Regions from separate parts of the Homo sapiens genome. Here all the other regions are linked to region 2. The links come from fine-mapping of genetic effects on gene expression. A gene starts in region 2. Each other region holds a variant in brackets. All regions are shown on one strand. Distances are from middle to middle.

Region 1 (8,242 bases), 32 kb before region 2:
AGCAAGGGTGCATCTTAAAAAAAAAACAAAAAACTCCTGAAGGCAGCATCAAGAAATAAGTACTAAAGTAAGATATCTTACAGTGTCAAAGTCTCTACCTCCAAACTTCTTATTTACAAAGGAGAAAAAGTGGAAAAGTGTGGCAGACACATCCTTAACTAAATGATCAAGGGGTGTGTGTGTGTGCCTTTTTTCAAAAGACAGGGTCTCGCTCTGTTGCCCAGGCTAGCGTGCAGTGTGCAATCACAGCTCACCAGAGCCTTAAACTCCAGGGCTCAAGCGATCCTCCCACTTTAGCCTCCAGAGTAGCTGGGACTACAGACATGCATCACTGTGTTCAAGTAATCCTCCCACCTTGTCATGCCAAAGTGCTGGGATTATAGGAATGAGACACCATGCCTGACCAGTGATCAAAGCTACTATCACCAGTAACAAGGCACACAGACATCATCATGTATCCCCTGATATTGTGACATCTTGCCAAAAATGCATAACTTGAATCCAACCCTGAGAAAACATAAGACACACTCAACTGAGGGACATTCTGCAAAATACCTATCCTATATATTTCAAAAGCAGCAGGTCATATAAACCAAGGAAAACTGAAAGAACTGTCACAGATTGGAGAAGACTAAGGAAACCTGACAACTAAATGCAATGTGGGAACCTAGATAAGATCCTGAAGGATATAAGGTGGAAAAAAGTAATAAAACCTAAATAAAGTCTATAGTGTAGTTAAGAATATTACTTACAAAATTAAGATTACAATGTTAATCTTAGTTTTGATAGTTGTATTAGAGTTATAACAGACATTAATATTAAGATGTTAATACAAAGCATACACGAGAATTCTATGTACAATCTTTGCAACTCTTTGGTAAATAAAATTCTTTCAAAATAAAAGTTTAAGGCCGGGCGCGGTGGCTCATGGCTGTAATCCCAACACTTTGGGAGGCTGAGGCGGGCAGATCACTTGAGGTCAGGAGTTCGAGACCAGCCTGGCCAACATGGCGAAACCCCACCTCTACAAAAAATAATAAAAAATTAGCCAGGTGCGGTGGTGCTCACCTGTAATCCCAACCACTTGGGAGGCTGAAGCACGAGAATTGCTTGAACCCAGGAGGTAGAGGTTGCAGTGAGCTGAGATCACGCCACTGCACTCCAGCCTGGGCGACAGAGTGAGACCCTGTCTCAAAAAAAAAAAAAAAAAAAAAGATAAAATTTTAGTAAAGCAGCCAGGCACAGTGGTTCACGCCTGTAATCCCAGCACTTTGGGAGGCTGAGGTGGGCAGATCACTTGAAGTCAGGTAGACCAGCCTGGGCAACATGGTGAAACCCCATCTCTATTAAAAATACAAAAAAAAAAAAAAATTAGCTGGGCATGGTGGCGCATGCCTGTAGTCCCAGCTACTCAGGAGGCTGAGGCATGAGAATCACTTGAGCCTGGGAGGCAGAGGTTGCAGCGAGCCAAGATTGTGCCACTGCATTCCAGTCTGGATGATAGAGGGAATCCTTTCTCAAAACAAAACAAAACAAACAAGCAAACAAACAAACAAAAAAAACCTCTCAGGATTCAACAGTAAAAAAAGCAAATAGGCTGGGCACCATGGCTCATGCCTATAATCCCAGCACTTTGTGAGGCCAAAGCGGACAGACTGCTTGAGCTCAGGAGTTCCAGACCAGCCTGGGCAACATGGTGAGACCCCGTCTCTACAAAAAATACAAAAATTAGCCAGGCATGGTGGTGCATGCCTGCGTCACAGCTAATGAGGAGACTAAAGTGAGAGAATTGCTTGAGCCCAGAAGATTGAGGCTACAATGAGCCGATATCACACCACTGCACTCCAGCCCGGGCAACAGAGAGACCCTGTCTTTAAAAAACAAAAAACATACAAACAAAAAAAACAGGCCGGGTGCTGTGGCTCATGCCTGTAATCCCAGTACTTTGGGAGGCTGAGGCGGGCAGATCACCTAAGGTCAGGAGTTCAAGACCAGGCTGGCCAACGTGGTAAAACCCCGTCTCTACTAAAAATACAAAAAAATTAGCCGGGCATAGTGCTGCATGCCTGTAATCTCAGCTATTCAGGAGGCTGAGACAGGAGAATCACTTGAACCCGGGAGGCAGAGGTTGCAGTGAGCTGAGATCGCGCCACTGCACTCCAGCCTGGGCTACAAGGGTGAGACTCCATCTCAAAAAAAAAAAAAAAAAAAGCAAACAATCCAATTTAGAAAATGGGCAAAGGACATGAAGAGACATTTCATTTCATTGAAGATGATATACAGATGGCAAACACACACAAACCCAAGAAGATGTTCAACATCATTAGCCAATTGGGAAATGCAAATTAAGACCACAGTGAGATACCAGTACAAAACTATTAGTGTAACTGAGTATTTCAGCTTTGAAATGCATTTTAAAACTTTTTTTATCCTTTTTCTCTAGTCTTAAGATGTAACCTTGAAACAAACTGTAGAAACTTTGTGTCCTAAGTCTTAAAATATGGCCTTGAAATCTTCTTTGAACTCTGCTCCCCTCTCTTTCCCACCAGACACTCCCTTGCACCATGCACACTTACCTAACTGCATGCTTGTTAAGAAATTCCAGGGGCTACAACAACCCAGGCAAAAAGACCCAGCGGTGGAATGAATTCTCCTCTACAGGGAGATTACCTCAAAACTGATAATCTGTAACTCAGCAGCAAATAAAATGGCACCAGCCTGTACTCCAGGCAGACAATAATTCGAGATAGTCCTTGGAACAACACATAGGAACCTGCATCCTGTGTTACTCTTATGTTTCCCATACCAAGTCTCCTCTTTTTAAACCCCTTCCCTCAGCCTAACACTTGAAATGGTCTTTTGGAGACATAAGCCTAGCCTATCCCAACTGCTAGCATTTCAATAAAGTTGCTTTCCTTTCACCACTCTTTCTTTCTCATGTTTTGGTCCTCAAGCAGTGAGCAGCCAGACTTTTGTTCAGTTATATTAGAACATCTAAAATAATTATTTTGAAGTGACAATACCAAATGCTGGTGAGAATATGGGAAAACTAGACTTCTCATACTTTGATGGTAGTAATGTAAAATGATACAGCCAATAATTAATTTTGTAATTTCTTTAAAAACTAAGTATTGGGCCAGGCGCAGTGGCTCATGCCTGTAATCCCACCACTTTGGGAGGCTGAGGCAGGTAGATCACTTGAGGTCAGGAGTTCAAGACCAGCCTGGCCAAGATGGTGAAACCCTGTCTCTACTAAAAATACAAAAATTAGCCAGGCATGGTGGTGTGCGCCTGTAATCCCACCAAATCAGGAGGCTGAGGCACAAGAACCACTTGAACCCAGGAGACTGAGGTTGCAATGAGCCAAGATCACACCACTGCACTCCAGTCTGGGTGACAGAGCAAGACTCTGTTTAAAAAAAAAAAAAAAAAAAAA[AAC/C]TTAAATATCTACTTCTGAGCATTTATCCCAGAAAAATAAAAACATGTCCACACAAACACCTACAAGCAAATGTTTAAAGCAGGTTTATTTTGTAATATTAAATGACCCTCAGTAAATGAATGGTTAACAAATTGTGGTACATCCATACATACCATGGAGTACAAAATAAAAAGGAACAAACTGGTAATACATTCAACAGCTTTGCTGGAACTCAAGGGCATTATGCTGAGTGAAAAAAGGCCAATTTCAAAAGGTAACAGCCTGTGTGACTCCATTTATATAGCAGTTTTTTGTTTTTTTTTTTTTTTTTTTTTTAAGAGACAGGGTCTTGCTCTGTTGCCAGGCTGGAGTGCAATAATGCAATCAGAGCTTAATACATCCTTGAAATTCTGGGCTCAAGTGATCCTCTCTTCTCAGCCTCCTCAGCTAGAACTATAGGCACCTACCACCATGCCCAGCTTATATTTATTTTTATTTTTGTAGTGACAAGGTCTCACTATATTGCCTAGGCTGGTCTCAAACTCTTGGTCTCAAGCAATCCTCCTGCCAGCCAAAGTGCTGGGATTACAGGAATAAACCACTGTTCTCAGCCTTATATAGCAGTCTTGAAATGACAAAACTATAGATGGAAAACAGATTAGGGTTCACCAGGGATTAGGAATGGTGCGAGGGGCCAGGCACAGTGGCTCACACCTGTAATCCCAGCACTTTGGGAGGCTGAGGCGGGTGGATAACTTGAGGTCAGGAGTTTGGGACGAACCTGGCCAACATGGTGAAACCCCATCTCTACTAAAAATACAAAAGATTAGCCGGGCATGATGGTGGGCACCTGTAATCTCAGCTACTCATGGGGCTGAGGCAGGAGAATCGCTTGAACCTGGGATGTGGAGGTTGCAAGTGAGCCAAGATCGCACCATTGCACTCCTACCTGGGCAACAGGAGCAAAACTCTGTCTCAAAAAAAAAAAAAAGGAATGGTGCAAAGAAAGGTGGGGGCCGGGCGCAGTGGTTCATGCCTGTAATCCCAGCACTTTGGGAGGCCGAGGCGGGCAGATCACGAGGTGAGGAGATCAAGACCATCCTGGCTAACATGGTGAAACCCCGTCTCTACTAAAAATACAAAAAATTAGCCGGGTGTGGTGGCGGGAGCCTGTAGTCCCAGCTACTCAGGAGACTGAGGCAGGAGAATCACTTGAACCCGGGAGGCGGAGCTTGCAGTGAGCTGAGACTGCGTCACTGTGCTCCAGCCTGGAGGACAGAGACAAAAAAAGAAAGGTGTGAGTGTGATTATAAAGAGGATGCAAGAGGTAAATCTTTAAGGTGATAGAAGAGTTCTGGATCTTGATAGAGGCTGTGGTTACATAAATCTATGCATATGATAAAATGGCTTGGCATAGAATTATATACATACATTGTCACTGTCAATTTCTTGATTGTGATATTGTACTATAGTCATATAAAATGTAACCATTGGGGGAAATGGGATAAAAGGTACACTGGGCCTTGCTGTATAATTTTTGCAACTTCCTATGAATCTATAATTATTTCAAAATAAAGTTTTTAAAAATAAGCTGTACCAACCTAGTTTCTAATCCAGAATAATTCAAACCAAAGAACTTTTGGGAGGGTTTTATAATTGGATTGTTTTCCTTCTCACAACTATTCACTGTAATCTGAATTGACTCATGGTACCTAGTTTGTTGTCTTTATCATTTTACACTAAAGGGGTCCTTGAAGAAGTGGTTGATTCTAGGTATGGAGCAGGAAAAGTACAAGATAAGCCTGTGCCATTTTATACTAGATAGCAAGGATTACGAGGGTTTTATCAAGAGCACTCAGGAACCAACCTGAATAGACTCTCACTGGCCAAATATGAGATCATTTGAGCATAAATAAGAATAAATAAATGCAATGGTTTAAAACATCAAATACAATTAAATCCATAAGATCAAAACGATTTTTAAAAAACTTTCATTGATTGGCTGTGAAGGATACTACAGAACCATCTTGTTATTTTAAAATCTGGTTAAAAAAAGAGAAAGAGAGAGAAAGCCAAACACGGTGGCTCACACCCATTATCCTAGCACTTTGGGAGGCCAATACGGGAGGATCGCTTGAATCCAGGAGTTTGAGACCAGCCTGGGCAAGATGGTAAAACCCTGTCTCTACAAAAAATAAAAAAAATTAGCTGGGTGTGTTGGTACACTCCTGTAGTACAAGCTACTTGGGAGGCTAAGGTGGAAGGATCACCTGAGCCTGGGAGGATTCAGCTGCAGTGAGCCATGACTTACTGCCGGGATTTGCAGCCCGGGCAACAAAGCAAGACCTCGTCTCAAAGAAAAAAAAAAAAAAAAAAAAGCAACCGCCCCCCACAATTCCATTTAGATTATTATCCAAAAGAATACAATACTTAGGAATTAACCAAAGATGTGAAAGACTTCTACAATTTAAAAATATATATATATACACGTTGCTGAAAGAAATTAAAGAAAACATGAATAAACAGAAACACATCCCATGTTCATAGATTAGAAGACTTAACATTGTTAAGATGTCAATACTACCCAAAGCAATCTACAGATTCAATGCAGTCTCTATCAAAATCCCAATGATTTTTTGGCAGAAATAGAAAAACCCATCCTAAATGTCATACGGAATCTCAAGGGACTTAGAATAGCCAAAATAAACTTGAAAAAGAAGAACAAAGCTGGAGGACTCACATTTCCTAATTTCAAAACTCACTATAAAGCGACAGTAATCAAAACAGTAAGGTACTGGCATCAAGGGCACAGAAATAAAACCTCACATATATCATCAAATGATTTTCCACAGGGGTGCAAGACCATTCAGTCGGAAATGGAGAGTTTTTTCAACAAATGGTATAGGGAAAACTGGACCCTTACCTAATAATACATACAAAAATTAACTCAAAATGGATCAAAGACCTAAATATAAGTCCTAAAACCCTAAGAAGCTTCACAACATCGGATTTGGCAATGACTTCTTAAATATGACAATGAAGACACAGGCAACAAAAAAAAGATACAAACAAGACTTGATGAAAATTTTAAAATTTTGTGCATCAAAAGACACCATCAACAGAATAAAAAAGTAATTCACAGGGTTGGGCACCGTGGTTCATGCCTGTAATCCCAGCACTTTGGAGGCCAAGGTGGGTGGATCGCTTAAGGTCAGGAGTTCGAGACCAGCCTAGCCAACATAGTGAAACCCCGTCTCTACTAAAAATACAAAAATTAGGCCAGGTACACTGGCTCATGCCTATAATCCCAGCACTTTGGGAGGCCAAGGCAGGCGGATCACTTGACGTCAGGAGTTCAAGACCAGCCTGGCCAACATGGTGAAACCCCATCTCTATTAAAAATACAAAAATTAGCCAGGCATGCTGGCACATGCCTATAATCCCAGCTACTTGGGAAGCTGAGGCAGAAGAATTGCTTGAACCCAGGAGGCGGAGGTTGCAGTGAGCGGAGGTTGCAGTGAGCCGAGATTGCGCCATTGCACTCTAACCTGGGTGAAGAAGCGAGACTCTGTCTAAAAAAAAGAAAAAATACAAAAATTAGCCAGGTGTGGTGGCAGGCACCTGTAATACCAGCTACTCGGGAGGCTGAGGCAGGAGAATTGCTTGAACCCAGGAGGCAGAGGTTGCAGTGAGCCAAGACTGCACCACTACACTCCAGCTTGGGTGACAGAGTGAGACTCCATCTCAAAAAAAAAAAAAAAGAAAAGAAAAGTAATTCACAGAATTGGAGAAATATATGGAAATCATATAACTAACAAGGAATTAATATCCAGACTATACAGAGAACTAAAACTCCACGAGAACAAAACAATTTCAAAAATGGGCAAAGGGGCCAGGCACAAGTGGCTCACACCTGTAATCCCAACACTTTGGGAGGCGGAGGCGGGCAGATCACCTGAGGTCAGGAGTTCCAGACGAGCCTGGCCAGCATGGCAAAACCCTGACTCTATTAAAAATACAAAAATTAGCCAGGTATGGTGGCAGGCGCCTGTAATCTCAGCTACTCAGGAGGCTAAGGCAGGGAGAATTGCTTGAACCCAGGAGGCCGAGGCTGCAGTGAGCAGTGAGATTGCACCACTGCATTCCAGCCCATGCAACAGAGTGAGATTCTGTCTTACAAAAAAAAAAAAAAAGGGCAAAGGACTAAAATATACATTTCTTCAAAGGATACATATAAATGGTCAATAAGCACATGAGAAGATGCTCAACATCATCAGGGAAATACAAATCAAAACCAGAAGGATATACTACCTTTGATATGGTTTGGCTGTGTCCCCACCCAAATCTCATCTTGAATTCCCATGTGTTGTGAGAGGGACCCAGTGGCAGGTAATTGAATCATGGGGACAAGTCCTTCCCTTGCTGTTCTCATGACAGCGCATAAGTCTCACGAGATCTGATGGTTTGATAAGGGGAAACCCATTTCATTTGGCTCTCACTCTCTCTTGCGGCTGCCATGTGAGACGTGCCTTTCACCTTCCGCCATGATTGTGAGGCCTCCCCAGCTACATGGAACTGTAAGTCCAATAAAGCTTTCTTTTGTAAATTGCCCAGTCTCAGGTATGTCTTTATCAGCAGCATGAAAATGGACTAATACAGTAAATTGGTACCAGTAGAGTGGGGTGCTGCTGAAAAGATACCCAAAAATGTGGATGTGACTTTGGAACGGGATAACAGGCAGAGGTTCAAATAGTTTGGAGGGCTCAGAAGAAGAGAGGAAAATGTGGGAAAGTTTGGAACTTCCTAGAGTCTTGTTGAATGGCT
Region 2 (8,066 bases):
AATAGTGGCATTAATGATGTCTGGGACTCTCTTGTAATATCAATGCAAAGGAATGTTACTAATTCTTTCTCCCACCAATCCTCTTCAGAAATATTGCCAACTATCCACTCAGGGGACAAAACCACCCCCAGTTGAGTGCCAACAAGTTTTTGAGTCCTTCAATGCTAGGCTCTGGGAATATTGTGAATAAGATAAATACTCACTGCTCCCATTGAGGAGTTCAGGAGAGACAGGCAAAAAATTAAGTATACCAAAAAATTTAAGATAATTACAAATTATAATACATTCTCTAAAGGAAGCAAGCAGGATGCTGAAACCGGAAATAATGGGGTAAAGAGTTCTGTATTAAACAGAGAATATCTAGGTAGGAGTTAGCCAGGTGAAGGAAGGATAGAGGTTGGGAGTATCTGTAAAATTGTCTCTAAGGAAACAGCATTTACAAAGCTTTATTTAGTCTCAGGTACATAAGCACCAAAATGTATATTTTCTACGTTGCTATTTTTTACTTGCCATTACTCAGTTACAAAAATGAGAAGGTATTTGTTTTTGATAGGACCATTCAATTGTCTTCCTCCCTCCCTGTTTGTATCTCTCCTTCTTTTCTTCTTTTTCTTCCTACTCTTCATTTCTTCTTTTTTCTCCCTTTCATTAGAAGAGACTTCTTTTCTTCTTTTTCTTCCTACTCTTCATTTCTTCTTTTTTCTCCCTTTCATTAGAAGAGACTTCAGTACCTGGCCTGATGCACAACTCTAAGTCATACTATTTACATTATATTCTCCATGAACGGCACCTCTAGAATTCTGTTCCAGAATCAGTATGACTCAGCTGGGTGTCCACACACCCTCTAGAATTCTACTCCAGAATCAGTGACTCAGCTGGGTGTCCACACTTTGGAATGTATAATCTATTCTCTCAAGGGGAAGTTGATTGATTTATTTCCTAATGATAGTGTTCTTCCTTATAAGCCATTATAAGCCATCAGGAGATATTGTTTGAAGAAAAGTAAAAGATAAGCAATCTGGACTGTGGGATGAAAGGATAAACACCCAAGGGTGGGAGGCAGGAATTCACGGAAGTTAAAAGTGGGAGAGGTATTACATTATATTCTATCAGAGTGAGTTTGTTTTGTGAGAACTTGTCCACTGCAAGGACTTCACTTGGTGTCCACCTGAGAAGTACTTGCCTACTATTATCTACGCACTAGTCTCAAACTCCCGATCTCAGGTGATCTGCCCTGCTGGGCCTCCCAAAGTGCTGGGATTACAGGCATGAGCCACCGCACCTGGTGATCTTGAACAGCCTTGTCAGTTGTCTTCCTTGCATTGACACTGCCCTAGAACTCCTCCAGGACAGGTAAGCCCAGAGAGAACCTTGGTTACTAAGCAGGATGGTGGTGGGACTTGGAGGCTGAATTGAATTTGCTAGGACACTGTAAGAACAGAATACCCCTGATACATTTTCAATAGAAGAATTTCTGGGGAAGTGACTTTTGTCTATTTTTCTATTTGGTCGCCTGTTTTTTTAAAAATTGATTTCTGGAAATACATATGGAGTTGAGCCCCTTTTCAATTATATGTATTTCAAATAAATTCTATTTGCTGGCCTAACTTTTCTTCTCTCTCTGTCTCTCTTCTTTTTTTTTCTTCTGTAGATCTCCTCTGTGGACAGCTTTTTTTTTTTTTTTTTTTTTTTTTGAGACAGGGTCCTCCTCTGTTGCCCAGGCTGGAGTTCAGTGGCTCTATCTTGGCTCACTGCAACCTCTGCCTCCTGGGTTCAAGTAATTCTCCTGCCTCAGCCTCCTGAGTGGCTGGGATTACAGGCACGCGCCACCACACCTGGCTAATTTTTGTATTTTTCGTAGAGATGGGGGTTTCACCATGTTGGTCAGGCTGGTCTTGAACTCCTGACCTCAGGTAATCCACCCGCCTTGGCCTCCCAAAATGCTGGGATTACAGGTGTGAGGCTCTGTGCCCGGCTGGAGACAACTTTTCATCTCCTAACGGCATCTTTTTTTTTTTTTCCCAGAGAATATCTCACTTTGTCACCCAGGCTGAAGTGCAGTGGCACAATCATGGCTCACTGCAACCTCAAACTCCTGGTCTCAAGTGATCCTCCACTCTTAGCCTCTTGAGTAGCTGGGACTACAGGTGCCTGTCACCATGCCTGGCGAATTTTTGTATTTTTAGTAGAAATGGGGTTTCGCCATGTTGCCCAGGCTAGTCTCGAACTCAAGTGATTCACCCGCCTCGGCCTCCCAAAGTGCTGGGATTACAGGCATGAACCATGGCGCCTGCCTGTGAAACTTCTATTCTGTGAAATTTCTATTCTCCTCAGTGAACCGAGGATAGGCAATCATTTGTGGTGCAAATTGAGGCCTGAGTGTCAATCCCTACCTAGAATTTTGTATCATGGTTAATTTATTTCATTTTTACCATAAAAATAAGTAGAAGCTTTTATATTTTCTACCTATTCCAATGGAGACTGAGCATCTTGCATGATACTTTGGTACATGCTCCCATTTTGGAGACCAAAAAGTCAGATGTCATGAGACAGATTGAAACTGGCAATTTTAACAATTTTTTATTAATATAACCTTTTTTATTCATAGATTTGAACCTCAATCGAGTGCATTTTAACAGTTACATAATTAGAAGGCAGGACTCCTTCCATGCTCCAGGCATTAAGCAGATACTAAGGTTTCAATAAATATTTGATTTGATCCTCTTGATTTTAGCCTAAGGAGAAAATGGTGAGATAAATTTCTTCTTTGCATAGGTGGAAAAGGGAAACATAATTGCTTTCAGAGAATCTAGGTCCTAAGAAGTTGGGGGAAGAAAGATGAAAGGAGGAAATACAATGTTGAATTGGGATAAGTTAAGTCTAATATTTCTTTGCTCAAGTTTGGAAACCTGAGGCCCTTCAGTGGCCAGCCTTAATGCAGTTTTTGTAATGCATCGAGACAAGACCTTATAATGGTCGTAGTGTGTGACTGTGAAAGAGAAGGAGAAAACATGTGAAAAACGAAAAAAAAAAAGCTCACAGCCTCAAACTGCTGCACATACCCTGTACAGTTAGTTTGCAGTCAGAGTAGGGAGCCGGCCTGGGTCCCCGCACCTGGGCCTGGCTCCCGTGGCCCCGCCCCTGGGGCGGGCTCCCATCGAGGCTCCGCCCCCACCTCCCCTATCGCCGGAGACGCCTGCGGCGGCCCCGGAGACACCGGAAGGAGCCGCGGCTGCTGCGGGAAGTGGCCAGTTCAGGAGGCGGACCCCCCGAGGGCAGCGCTGCGGGGCCGTTTTCCGGCCCTCCTGACGCGACACTGCCCCTCTCCGAGAGCTGAGAAGGAAAAGAGGAGCTTGCGGAGGTGCGGCTGCAGGCCGTTGTTGGTCGAGCTGGCGGGTCCCGCGGGCCAGGCCGTGGAGGTGAGCGCGGCGCTGCTGGGAGGGGCGCGGGGCCCAAGGGCGTTTCGCTCGCGTCCGGGGTCCGGTCTCTGTTCTCGCTTCCGCGCGCTGGGGTTGCGGCCGCTGCAGCAGCCTCTTTTTCTTGGTCCTGGGTGGCGGCGGGTTCGCGGGCGGGAAGAAGGCCTTGGCCCCTCGGTGCTCTGCGTTGCAGAGATAATCTAGTGGTCGCCCTGTCAACGGTCGGTGGAGGATGGGAACCGGTCGTTGATTTGAGGAAGGGTCCTCAGGGGTTCTTCCCTGGAAGCGGGAGGTGCAGGTGAGCCCGAGAAGCGGGGGCTCTGCTCCCTTCCTCGGTCTCCCCACTCAGGCTTGCCAGTCCCTCTCAGTGGGTGACTGAAAGCCCTGCAGCGCGCCGGCTCCTGGGTTCTGGTTTCGCTTTTCGGCGCTGTTGAGGGGGCCGGCCCCGTTGTTTGTTGTTGTGAACGGAAAAACCGAGGTGTCATCGTCCCTGGAATTTTTCTTCGACCAATGTTTGATCTTGACTGAGAGGTTACCCCTTACCTTCTGTCCATCTGCAGCCTTTGTTTGGATGAAAGATCCATAGTGTGTGGTTTCCCAGACCTTTACTTATATTTCTCGTATACAAAACGCTCTTCATTTGAATATTTACAGGGTTTTACGTTGAGCTCTTGGACGATGAGATTTTCCTGGGTGTTTTGCACTCAAGTACCGTTGGAGTTTACATTCTCATAGAATCAGTATTAGGCCTGGAAAATTGAGCCAGAGGGTGAAATTCTGGCAGGAGCATAGACTTAAATTGAAGGTGAATTTTACCGTAACGATCTCTAGGCCTTTTGCTTAATAACTATGTGGATGTAGAGAATTTTTAAGTTTAATCAGATTATTTTTCCTTTAAGAAAAACGTGTTACAAAAAGTAACAAGGCCGTCCTAGTTCCGTTTTTCCTACTGTCTTATTTGGAAAGGTCTGACCAAGTCACATTATCGTCATAGGCTATTTGATTTGAGCATAATACAAATATTGTTAGTGAATTCATACTATTATAAATAAGAGAGAAAATAGGAATCTTAAAGACAATGCTAGTTTTATGAAAAAATAATAGAAATAGTTACACAATGCTAGGAGCTTTGTATTATTTCATTACTTTGGCAGGATTGAAAGAAAGGTCAGGGCTGGGCACGGTGGCTCACGCCTGTAATCCCAGCACTCTGGGAGGCCGACGATCACGAGGTCAGGAGATCGAGACCATCCTGGGTAATACGGTGAAACCCCGTCTGTACTAAAAATTACAAAAAATTAGCCGGGCATGGTGGCAGGTGCCTGTAGTCCCAGCTACTTGGGAGGCTGAGGCAGGAGAATGGCGTGAATCCGGGAGGCAGAGCTTGCAATGAGCCGAGATCATGCCACTGCACTCCAGCCTGGGCAGCAGAGCGAGACTCTGTCTCAAAAAAAAAAAAAAAAAAAAAAAGGACAGTACAAAAAATATTATTGGAATAAAATATTTGACCTGATATGTGCAAGAGGGATAGTCTACTTAAGATTGCTTCCTATTTATGATCTGGTTTATGGCCAGTTTCACTTTTTTTCTGTCTTTTCTGAACTTTTTATAACTTAACAGTAAGCAAGTCTTTTTATATAACTGCAGTTTAATGACATTAGATTGTAGTAAATAGGTGATTTTAAATATTTGAAATTCAGAATTGAGATGATAATTCTTACATTTATGTAGTAGTATTAGAATTTTCTGTGACCTTTCACTTACACAGTCTTACTTGATCCTCATGCCAGTCCTCTGAGCTCCGAATGCCAAGAAATAAAGTCTTTCCCCATGACAGAAACATTTCAAGATTGTGTAAGGATCAGAATTTCGTAAAGCCTGAAATAATGTTGCCAAAGCAGCTTTTGATACAGATTGGGAATTCAGATAGATTAAGATTGGAGCACTGTGAACTATAACATATGACAAGACTGTGGACTCTTCACAAGAAAATGAAGTACATAAAATGCTGAAAGATTTTTGGTGAGAAATGTGAAATGTAACCATTTCTAAAAAGGAAGGGAATAAGTAACAGCTCTATTTAGTGTAGTTTTTAAACTTTAAAAGTGTACATGTGTCTGCAGGAACATTTTGATAAGTGGGAAAACTCCAAAGAGTGTGAGATGAGTACAGTTGCTTTTAACTATCTATAAAAAGGCACATGAATTATGTGCTATATTGTATACTGAGAACTAGTCTTTAAGAAACAATATGTATATCAAAATAAATCATGCTGTCAAATGTTCAGAAGGTTAAGTTAGGTCAATATTTTGAGTCTACCAGGACAAGGCCCTTTGGAAAACAAAAAGAATGAAACGTGGTTTCTGCCTTCAAAGAACTTGTAGTCAAGTGAGGCAATTTTTTACACAACAGTAAATGCCTTATGAGTTTTTATAAAAGTTCCTTAGGAATTTAGGTGAGGTAGACATTACTTGTGATTGGGGCTTGGTGAAGGTAGTATTTGAGATGAGTGAGCTTTGAAAGGTAAATATTGGAGGATATTTGTAATGTGAACAGATTAATGAGCTCCTTGAAGGGTACAACTTACATTTGAGAAAACATCGGTAGAACAATGTGGCTGATATTCATAGTTTATGTAAGTTAATAATAGATAAAGAAGACAAATTATGAAAGACTTCACTGAAGGTGTTTGATCAGAAGAGGTATGTGATCCACATGAAAGGAAAATGAGCTGTAACTGTTAGAAGATTGAGACTGGAAGACTGCTGGGGTGGCTTTATGTTAAGCTAGATTGTGACCATTATTTTTGTAGCCCTTATGGTTTCTCTGAAGTGCATCTTGAACTTGGACCTGAGATGACATGGGTGCAGGTGAGATGCTATAAAGCACAAGTGAGGAAGCAGGTAGAATCAGAGAAGGAGGAAAAAAGGTTAATAGTGGAAGGCCAACTGGAGGCTGCTTAAGCCTTTGGAGATTTTTGTATAACTGCCTCAGAGTTTTGTATAACTGCCCCAAATGAAGGGGAGCTGGGTGGTTTTCCATCTACAGTCAATCCTCACTGATAAAGATTGCCTTTATCTAAAAGGCTCCCAGAACTTCCCAGGTACACTGGTTAGGTAGGGCTTGGCAAGCTCCTGAGGTGCTGGAGAGCTGAGGAGAGAAGTAGTTGAGATGGGAAGTTGTCAGTGTGTTAACTGTGCATACCAGCTACAAGTAAACATTGAAGTGAGCTGAAAGGAGATGGTCCAGGTATCAACTCTGTGTCTTAACAGGCATTCTCATTGAATAATCCAGATGTGAAATAAAAGCCTCAATTTAGATAGAGACCTAGAAGAAATGTGAGATGAAATGTGGTTAAAAAAAAAAATGCCGAATTTAGAAACTGATAGAAAGTGAGGAGGGGAGCCAGGTGCTGTGGCTTGAGCCTGTAGTCTCAGTCACTTGGGAGGCTGAAACAGGAGATTTGCTTGAGCCCAGAAGTTCAAGTCCAACCTGGGCAATATAGAGAGCCTCCCATTTCAAAAAAAGTAAATGAAAAAAGTAAGGAGGGATCTAAGATGGTACTGAGGTTTAAAAGTTAGTTAACTTGTGAAAAAGAAGGGTTGACAGAAGGACACTGACTTTCAAATTAGTTTTTTAAGGAAAGTGAAAAAATTGCATAGTATTCAGGAGAGTGATGATAAGAGTGTTGATGACCAGTCATTCAAAAGGAAAGCAGGGTGGAGACTTGAACAATGCTGCCATCCCCACAAACTTATAATGTCTGGCCCATGCTGGATTATAAGCATTTGTTAAATTAATTTCTATCCCCCAGGGCTTATCACAGTCCTGAAATACAGTAATGTGGTGAAACTATAGGGCTGAATGTGACCTAAAATAAGACCATTTCCCACAGGTTTTAACTTTTATAAAATCCTAGAAGAGGAATTTCTTATATATTTTACTTTTTTGTGAAAGGGTCTCACTCTTGCCCAGCCTGGCGTGCAGTGGTGCGATCTTGGCTCACTGCAACCTCCACCTCCTGCGTTCAAGCAGTTCTCACCACTCAGCCTCTGGAGTAGCTGAGATTACAGGCGCACGCCACCATACCCAGCTAATTTTTGTATTTTTTGGTAGAAATGGGGGTTTCACCATGTTGGCCAGGCTGGTCTCAAACTCCTGACCTCAAGTGACCCTCCCACCTTGGATTCCCAAAGTGCTGGGATTACAGGCATGAGCTGCCATGTCTGGCTGGAATTTCTTATATTTTTTATGGAAGCATTACTGTGTTTAGATGAATCAGTTTTGATTAGTTTTAAAATCAATATTATAGTCTGGTAAACAATAAAAGAATTGATAATTTTTCTTATGGTGGTTCTCATTTGAATATGGTGATAGCATTTGTTTTCTCATATTCTTTCTTTCTTTTTTCTTTTTGCTCACAAGCTGAACTGAAGATTTAGGTTTTTCCATGTTTCTATGTGGTTTACATGAATATTTTTAATGACTGTTCCGTAATGCCAGTATATTAACTCTTCATCTTGCTCAAAAGTGAGACTTAGAGTGAAAATTATCATCAGCTTATTTGAGACTCTGTTAGAACTCTGTCATATTCATTAATTCATTTCTATTTCCTCTCTCTTCCAATATTTCTCAAAATTATTTCAACGA
Region 3 (8,242 bases), 100 kb after region 2:
TTTTTAAGAGATTAGGCCAGGTATTTAGTGTCCCTCAGTTTGAATTTCTTGTGGTTAGATTCAGGGTGAGTACACTGATACTTCCAATTCTAGTCACTACAGGGTATGTTCAAATTTCCCACCCTTCCATATTTGTGATATCTTAAGTTTTTTTGCTTCATGTTTAAAAATACCTGTTGGGTGAGGTGCATTGGTTTATGCCTGTAATCCCAGCACTTTGGGAGGCCAGGGGAGGAGGATCCCTTGAGCCCAGGAGTTTGAGACCAGTCTGGGCAACATAGCGAGAACTTGTCTCTACAAAAAAAAAGCCAGGCTGGGTACGGTGGCTCATGCCTGTAGTCCCAGCACTTTGAGAGGCTGAGGTGGGCAGATCATGAGGTCAGGAGTTTGAGACCAGCTTGGCCAATATGGTGAGACCCCGTCTCTACTAACAGTACAAAAATTAGCCGGGTGTGGTGGTGTGTGCCTGTAGTCGCAGCTACTTGGGAGGCTGAGGCATAAGAATCGCTTGAACCTGGGAGGCAGAGGTTGCAGTGAGCCTAGATCACGCCACTGTACCAGCCTGGGCGACAGAGCAAAACTCCATCCAAAACAGAAACAAAAACAATGGTACAGAAAAACCAAGTAAAAAAAAAAAAAAAAGCCAGGCATCATGGCTTGTGCCTGTAGTCCTAGCTACTCAGGAGATTTAGGTGGGAGGATTGCTTGAGCCCAAGAGTTCAAGGTTGCAGTGAGCTATGATCGTGTCACTGCACTCTAGCCTGGGCAACAGAGCAAGACCTCGTCTGGAAAACAAAAAAAATTCCTTGTTAGCAATTTGAAACTATAATCAAGAGATGAAAAGGGGGTGTCTTGTGATTTAAGAGACTCCTCTAACTTGGAAAAAGAAAGCAATTTTGAGTGCCCACTTTATGCCAGACATTCCATAATCTGATATGGAATGATAATTATTCAAGATTGGTGTGCCTTTTTCTTTCATGGAAGAGAAAAGTAGTTAATCTCTCCTCAGAGAGGTTGTAATTTTTTACCAGGTATCTAACTGCAATGCCCTTAATCATTCCTCTGTGATTAGGGCAGCTAAGTGTCAGAAAAGCCAGTATGGTATGTTTTCTAGGCTAAATAACTTCTGAGGGCCCTTTTAGTCATTGCATTGGAAATTTACTTGGTTTTTCTGTACCATTGTTTTTGTTTTTGTTTTTGTTTTGGTTTTGGTTGGAGTTTTGCTCTTGTTGCCCAGGCTGGAGTGTAATGGCGTGATCTTGGCTCACTGCAGCCTCGGACTCCTGGGCTCAAGCGATTCTCCTGCCTCAGCCTTCCAAGTAGCAGGTATTACAGTTACCCGACACTCTGCCTGGCTAATTTTTGTTTTTTTAGTAGAGACGGGGTTTCACTATGTTGGCTAGACTGGTCTCGAGGTCTGACCTCATGATCTGCCCACCTCAGCCTCCCATAGTGCTGGGATTACAGGCATGAGCCACTGCGCCTGGCCTCTGTACCATTGTTAACTGTATGGTGTTCTGAGTGATTTTCCTAAAGGGCATTCAATGATTTTTTTTTTTTTTTTTTTGCGTTAAAGCAATTAAAGCTCAATTTAATGATGGCAAATTAGGGTAACAAATGCACTTAGAGTAAATTAGGAATTTGGGTTTGAAGTTTCCTAGAAAAATATTTATAAATGAAAAATACGTGTTTGTGTTTATTGTGTGTTCATAAATGTGTGATTCTTTTTAGATCAACTATTTCTGTATATAATTGGAAGAAATAGAAATTAGTCCAGAATGGTAGAAAGCTTGAATTTGGTCATGATGGTAGTATGAAGTGTAGAGAGAAGCAGTCTGAGAGTTGGGGCCTAAAATAATAGGATAGAAGTAATGTGGCCTTCTGCAATTCCATATCTGGGTTATTCCTGAAAGGATTGAAGGCCGGGTCTTGAAGAGAGATTTGTACACCTGTGTTCATAGCCACACTGTTCACAATAGTTAAAATGTGAAAGCAACCCAAGTGTCCATTAATGGATGAGCAAAATGTGGTATATGCATAGGGAATATTATTTACCTCTAAAAAGGAAGGAGATTCTGACATGTTGCCACATGGATGAACCTTGAGGACATTATGTTAAGTGACATGAGCCAGTCACAAAAAGATACTGTATGTTTCCACATATATGAGGTATTTAGAGTAGTTAAAATCATAGAAACAGAAAGTAGAAAGGTAGTTGCCAGAGGCTAGAGGTGGGGGATATGCGGAGTTAATGTTTAAGGAGCGTAGAGTTTCAGTTTTACAAAATGGAGTTTTGGAGATGGATGGTAGTGATGATTGCATTATGAATGTATTGGATTACACTGAACCATACACTTAAAAATGATTAAGATGACAAATTTTATGTTATGTGTATTTTACCACAATAAAAAAAAATATTGGGGAGGGGAGAAGTAACTTACCTCTCACTAACGAGGCATACTCTTCTTTACCTGCTAGAAAATGAAATGTCAGCCAGGCACAGTGGCTCATGCCTGTAATCCCAGCTCTTTGGGAGGTTGAGATTGGAGGATCACTTGAGGCCAGGAGTACCACTCCAGCCTGGGCAACATAGTGAGACCCTGTTTCTATAAAAATTTAAAAAATAGCTGGGTGTGGTGGCAAGCCCCTGTAGTCCTAGCTACTTGGGAGGCTAAAGCAGGAGTATCGCTTGAGCCCAGGAATTTGAGGTGGCAGTGAGCTATTGTCCTGCCACTGCCCTCTAGCCTGGGTGACAAGAGTGAGATCCTGACTCAAAAACAAACAAACAAACAAACAAAACCACAACAACTGAGCTCTGCCTTCCCCCAATCCTCACTCCTCTAGTAATACTTTAAAAGGAACTTTTTTTTTTTTTTGGGTAATCAAAACATAGGATTCAACTGGTTTCTTTCTTTCTTTTTCTTTTTTTTTTTTTTTGAGATGGAGTCTCTCTTTGTCACCCAGGCTGCTGGAGTGCCGTGGCGTGATCTCGGCTCACTGCAACCTCCACCTCCCGGATTCAAGTGATTCTCCTGCTTCAGCCTCCTGAGTAGGATTACAGGCACGTGCCCCCACGCCTGGCTAATTTTTGTATTTTTAATAGAGATGGGGTTTTACCATGTTGGCCAGGTGGGTTTCACCATGTTGGCCAGGCTGGTCTCGAGCTCCTGACCTCAGGTGATTCACCCATCTTGGCCTCCCAAAGTGCTGAGATTACAGGAGTGAGCTACCACACCTGGATCAACTGGTTTTTTAAATTTAAAAATTGATTAAGTATATTAGAAAAATTCAATGAGATAATAAATCGAATTAAACTAAATTAAACATTTTTCTTTCATTAGTAATATTAAAACACTTAAAGCTACATTGAGTGATAGCAAATTAGTAAAGCCTATTAAGTCTTCTATGTAAAGTATGATTCAGAAATATATATTTTATATATATATGCATGATCTCGGCTCACCGCAACCTCCGCCTCCCAGGTTCAAGCAGTTCTCCTGACTCAGCCTCCCTAGTAGCTGGGATTACAGGCATGTGCCACTACGCCCGGCTAATTTTGTATTTTTAGTAGAGACGGGGTTTCTCCATGTTGTTCAGGCTGGTCTCGAACTCCTGACCTCAGGTGATCCGCCTGCCTCGGCCTCCCAAAGAAGTATATTTTAATGAACTTTCTTGCATAGTCATTTAAAAATGCATTTAGAATTTTTAACAAATGAAGCTTTATCTTAAAAGCCACCTGACAGTGTCCTTCAAGGATGGAAACATTTATATGCTGTGACCCAATAAGTCTGTTTTAAGGTAATAATCAAATGCAGACATAGAGTGTACAAGAATGTTAATCACAGCATTTTAAATAATAAATAGTATAATATCAGAAGCAGCTTAAATGTCCTAACAGAATGGAAATGGTCAAATTATAAACTATTTATACAGTTTTTATATGGCCATTAACAATTTTAGGCTGGGCGGTGTGGCTCACGCCTGTAATCCCAACATTTTAGGAAGCCAAGGCGGGAGGATCGCTTGAGCCCAGGAGTTGGAGATCAGCCTGGGCAACATAGGGAGACCTTGTCTCTACTAAAAAGAAGAAGAAGAAAAAAAAAAAAAGCCAGGATGTGGTAGTGTACACACCTATGACTATAGGTCCCAGCTACTTGGGAGGCTAAGCTGGGAGGTTCGTTTGAGCCCGGGAGATCAAGGCTGCAGTGAACAGTGATCTCCCCATTGCATTCCAGCCTGGGTGACAGAGTGAGACCCTGTCTCTAAAAAATAAAAAAATCCCAGACAATTTAGCCCTTAATTATGTGGCTTAAGTGGGGAATAAATGCCAGGATGCCAAATTAAGTGTGTGTTGTGTGAATTCTGATTTTTAAAATTCACATTGAAATAAGAATGGAAGAGAATACACTAGTATGTTGTGTTTTTTTTTTTTTTTTTTTTTTT[TG/G]AGACAAAGTCTCGCTCTGTCGCCCAGGCTGGAATGCAGTGGCGTAATCTCAGCTCGCCGCAACCTCTGCCTCCTGCATTCAAGCGATTCTCCTGCCTCAGCCTCCCTAGTAGCTGGGATTACAGGTGTGTGCCACTGAGCCTGGCTAATTTTTGTATTTTTAGTAGAGACAGAGTTTTGCCATGTTGGCCAGACTGGTCTCAAACTCCTGACCTCAGGTGATCCACTCACCTTGGCCTCCTAAAGTGCTGGGATTACAGGCATGAGCCACCGCACCCAGACCTACACTAGTATGTTAAGTGGTTGTTGAAATGGGGTAAGCTATATTTGTACTTTATATTGTGGATGTGTCTAAATTATTGTATTTTGTATAATTGTCCATTCATTTAACATTTATTGGATACTATATGCTTGTTAAATAATTTAACAATTATTTATTGGATACCTATACTTGGGGTCCTAGAACCAATCCCCCCCACGTATACTGAGGGATGACTATAGTCTGTTCTCATTATTCTTGGATTCCACGTTTGTGAACTCATTTACTGGCTAAAATTTATTTGTAACCCCCAAATCAATATGTCTGGCACTTTCGCAGTCATTTGCGGACATGTTCAGAGTGGTGAAATTTGAGTTGCTTGATGTACACATTTCCAAATGAGGTTAAACAAAATGACTCTCTGCTGCCTTGTTCTAGCTCTCTTGTCTATTTACTTAGTGCTACATCTTTCCCACTTTTTTTTTTAGAGGTGGTTTCACTGTTTAAAATTGCCCCTAAGTGTAGTGCTAAAGTGCTGTCTATAGTGTTCCTAAGTGCAAGAAGGCTGTGATGAAAAGTTATAGTGCTGTTGACTGTGAGTTCCGTGTTTATGAATCAGCAATATAAAAGTGTTTTTAGGCTGGGTGCGGTGGCTCACGCCTGTAATCCTAGCACTTTGGGAGGCCGAGGTGGGTGGATCACTTGATGCCAGGAGTTAGAAACCAGTCTGGCCAACACAGTGAAACCCCATCTCTACTAAAAATAGAAAAAATTAGCTGGGCGTGGTGGTGCACACCTGTAATCCCAGCTACTCAGGAGGCTGAGGCATGAGAATCACTTGAACCCGGGAGGCGGAGGTTTCAGTGAGCCGAGATCATACCGCTGCACTCCAGCCTGGACGACAAAGTGAGACTGTCTCGAAAAGTAAGTAAATAAATAAAGAAATAAAAGTGTTTTTAAATAAAAGTACAGATAAAACAAGGATATGTGTTGTTAGGCTGTTGAAAATGTTTTAGTCAGAGGCTAGCAGGAACTTCACTCTGAATTTCTCTTGTATTGAGTATTTGATAATTCAGTGCTCATGGCAACTTTATGAGAATCAACTATATATGATCTGTTATGGCACTTAGGGATTTTGAAATACTGAAACTAGCTTGGGAACTGCTTTACCTGTCCTGTAGATTCTTAGAGGTGACGGAGAGTCCAGCTTAGAGGTTGGTTAATATGCTGGTAAAAATTTTTGTGCCCTCTGAAGACAGTACAAATTCAAGAATTTAGAGCAATGGTGCATATCTGATAAGATTCAAGGTCTCAATATTTTGATATTCAGACCTTGACTTTGATATCAAAAGATATTTCAGGGAGGACTCTGTCCCATGAGAAATGGTAAAATATCCTAACTCATTGTGAATCTTTACCTTGATCCGTCTCCTTTAGATTATTTTATTTGCTTTTAAGACTTTTCCTAGTCTTTTTGATTGTTGTGTTGACAGAAACCATTGAGAATTCTTAAGACAGATGGAGCATGGCTTTTAGAGAGGATTAAGTAGTCATTTATTTATTACCTGTCACTGGCCTTAAAAAAAATTGACATTAAATAACATCCTTAAGGATAAGTATCACTAAATAAAATTAATGGAAATTTTGACTTTTTTCCTAAATTTAACTGACAAATTTAAAAAATATTTAAAGCAAGCCAAGAATTAAAATTTTTTGTAAGCATTTTCAAAATGCAGTATACAGTTAGGCAGCTATAAAATATATTGTTGTGAGGAAAACTGTAAGTTGATGAAAGGGAAACATTTGTAAAAATTAAATATATAGATGGATCTTTACATCAGGCATTTCACCTAGGCCTTGCTGAATTATTTATGCTTCATTTATGAATGTCCATTGAAGATGAATGGCTGTCCAGAGCTGAGATTATGTCTTAATGATAAGTACATAGTACACTGTGTGTGCTAAACTAATGTATCTTGAAATGAATCAGTCTTGCTAGTCCAATAATCATTTTCAAGTTAGTCTGTTCCAGGATTTAACAAGCTGGTTTGGACCTAAGAATGATATATGGTGCCTTCTCATCTCATTTCTTCTTCTAAGTCATAGATCAACAAAGGGATTTTTTGGAACTGAAAAGTCCAGGGTGTTTGTCTGGTTCAGGCTGAGCTAAGTCAGTACGTTTAAATGATGTCATATTAGTGCTCTGCTTCTGTTGCTCTACTGCTGACAAATTCAGCTTTATTTGTTGCTACCTGAAGGAGAGTTTTATCTATCTGCCTTGTCTGTTTGTCTGTCTCATTAGCTATTGTCTTAGTCTGTTTGGGCAGCTGTAACAGAAAACCATAGACTGGGTAGCAAATAAACAACAGCCATTTATTTCTCATGGTTCTGAAGGTTGAAAAGTCCAAGGGCAGATTAAGTGTTGGCAACGGCCCAGTTCCTGGTTTATAAGTGGCCATCTTCTCACTGTGTCTTCACATGGCTGAAGGGGCTTAAACTTGACTAAACCCAATCAAAGTAAAGGTAATTCTAGAAGAAAATTAATTTTGATCTTAAAAACCCTTTACTTGATCACATTATATAAATATTAACTCTTTTATTGGCTTATCATATGCTATGGTTTGAATGTCCCATCCAAAACTCATGTTGAAACTTAATCCCCAGTGTGGCACTATTGAGAGGTGGGACCTTTAAGACGTGATTGGATCATGAAGTCTCTGCCCTCATGAATGGATTAATGGGTTAATTGGTTAATGGATTAATGGGTTATCATGGGAGGGGAACTGGTGGCTTTATAAGAAGAAGAGAGACCTGAGCTAGCACATTAGCACGCTCAGCCTTCTCACCTTGTGATGCTCTGTGCTACCTCAAATCTCTTCAGAGAATCCTCATGAGCAAGAAGGCTCTCACCAGAGACAATTCCTTGACTTTGGACTTCTCAGCCCCTGTAACAGTAAGAAATAAATTTCTTGGCTCGGTGTGGTGGCTTATACCTGTAATCCCAGCACTTTGGGAGGCAAAGGTGGGAGGATTGCTTGAGTACAGGAGTTCGAGACCAGCTTGGGCAACATAGAACTTGTCTCTATTTAAAAAGAAAGAAAGGAAGAAATTTATTTTCCACAAATTACCCAATTTCTGGTATTCTGTTATAAGCATAGAAAAAGGAGTAAGCTTCATAGAGATGGAAAAGATATCCATCTATCTATGGAGAGGCGTGGGTACCAAACATAAGGCAATATGTAAGGCCTGATGTCAAAAGGGCCAGTTATGTTTATTTCCTATTTTTTCTTTTCGGTTTTGTTTTTTCAGTCTGTTAATATAGAGTGAATTGCATTGAACCAACCTTATGTACATGTAAGCCAGTCTTACATTTTGGGGATAAACATCATTTGGTCATGGTGTATTATTTTAAAAATATTATTATATTTGGTTTGTTAAAAAGTTGTTTGGAGTTTTACATCTATGTTTATGAGGAATATAGGTTTGTAGTTCAAATTTCTTGTAATTTTTTTGTCTGGTTTTGAAATCAGACTAATCCT

Alleles and levels. Alleles are on the strand shown, and positions count from the first base shown. SD is a standard deviation of normalised expression in the study named. Not every link is listed here.
With allele TG in place of G in region 3, the expression in neutrophils of the gene that starts at base 3,210 in region 2 is lower (moderate effect, 0.65 SD a copy in BLUEPRINT).

What was found.
Region 1: its variant is fine-mapped to the expression of USP33 in whole blood (INTERVAL, PIP above 0.99).
Region 3: its variant is fine-mapped to the expression of USP33 in neutrophils (BLUEPRINT, PIP 0.91).

What each region holds. Positions count from the first base shown.
Region 1 is chr1:77,786,756-77,794,997 of GRCh38, reverse strand. All of the region lies in intron 2 of MIGA1 (mitoguardin 1), which reads right to left. Among named protein-coding and RNA genes, the nearest start is that of MIGA1, 11 kb to the right of the region's middle. The variant AAC/C (reference allele first, on the strand shown) is at 3,437.
Region 2 is chr1:77,754,996-77,763,061 of GRCh38, reverse strand. It overlaps USP33 (ubiquitin specific peptidase 33), which reads left to right and starts at 3,210. Exons shown (of 24, transcript NM_201624.3): 1 at 3,210-3,419. RefSeq lists a silencer at 3,021-3,300 and an enhancer at 6,614-6,663.
Region 3 is chr1:77,654,381-77,662,622 of GRCh38, reverse strand. All of the region lies in intron 1 of ZZZ3 (zinc finger ZZ-type containing 3), which reads left to right. Among named protein-coding and RNA genes, the nearest start is that of ZZZ3, 24 kb to the left of the region's middle. RefSeq lists an enhancer at 20-519. The variant TG/G (reference allele first, on the strand shown) is at 4,444.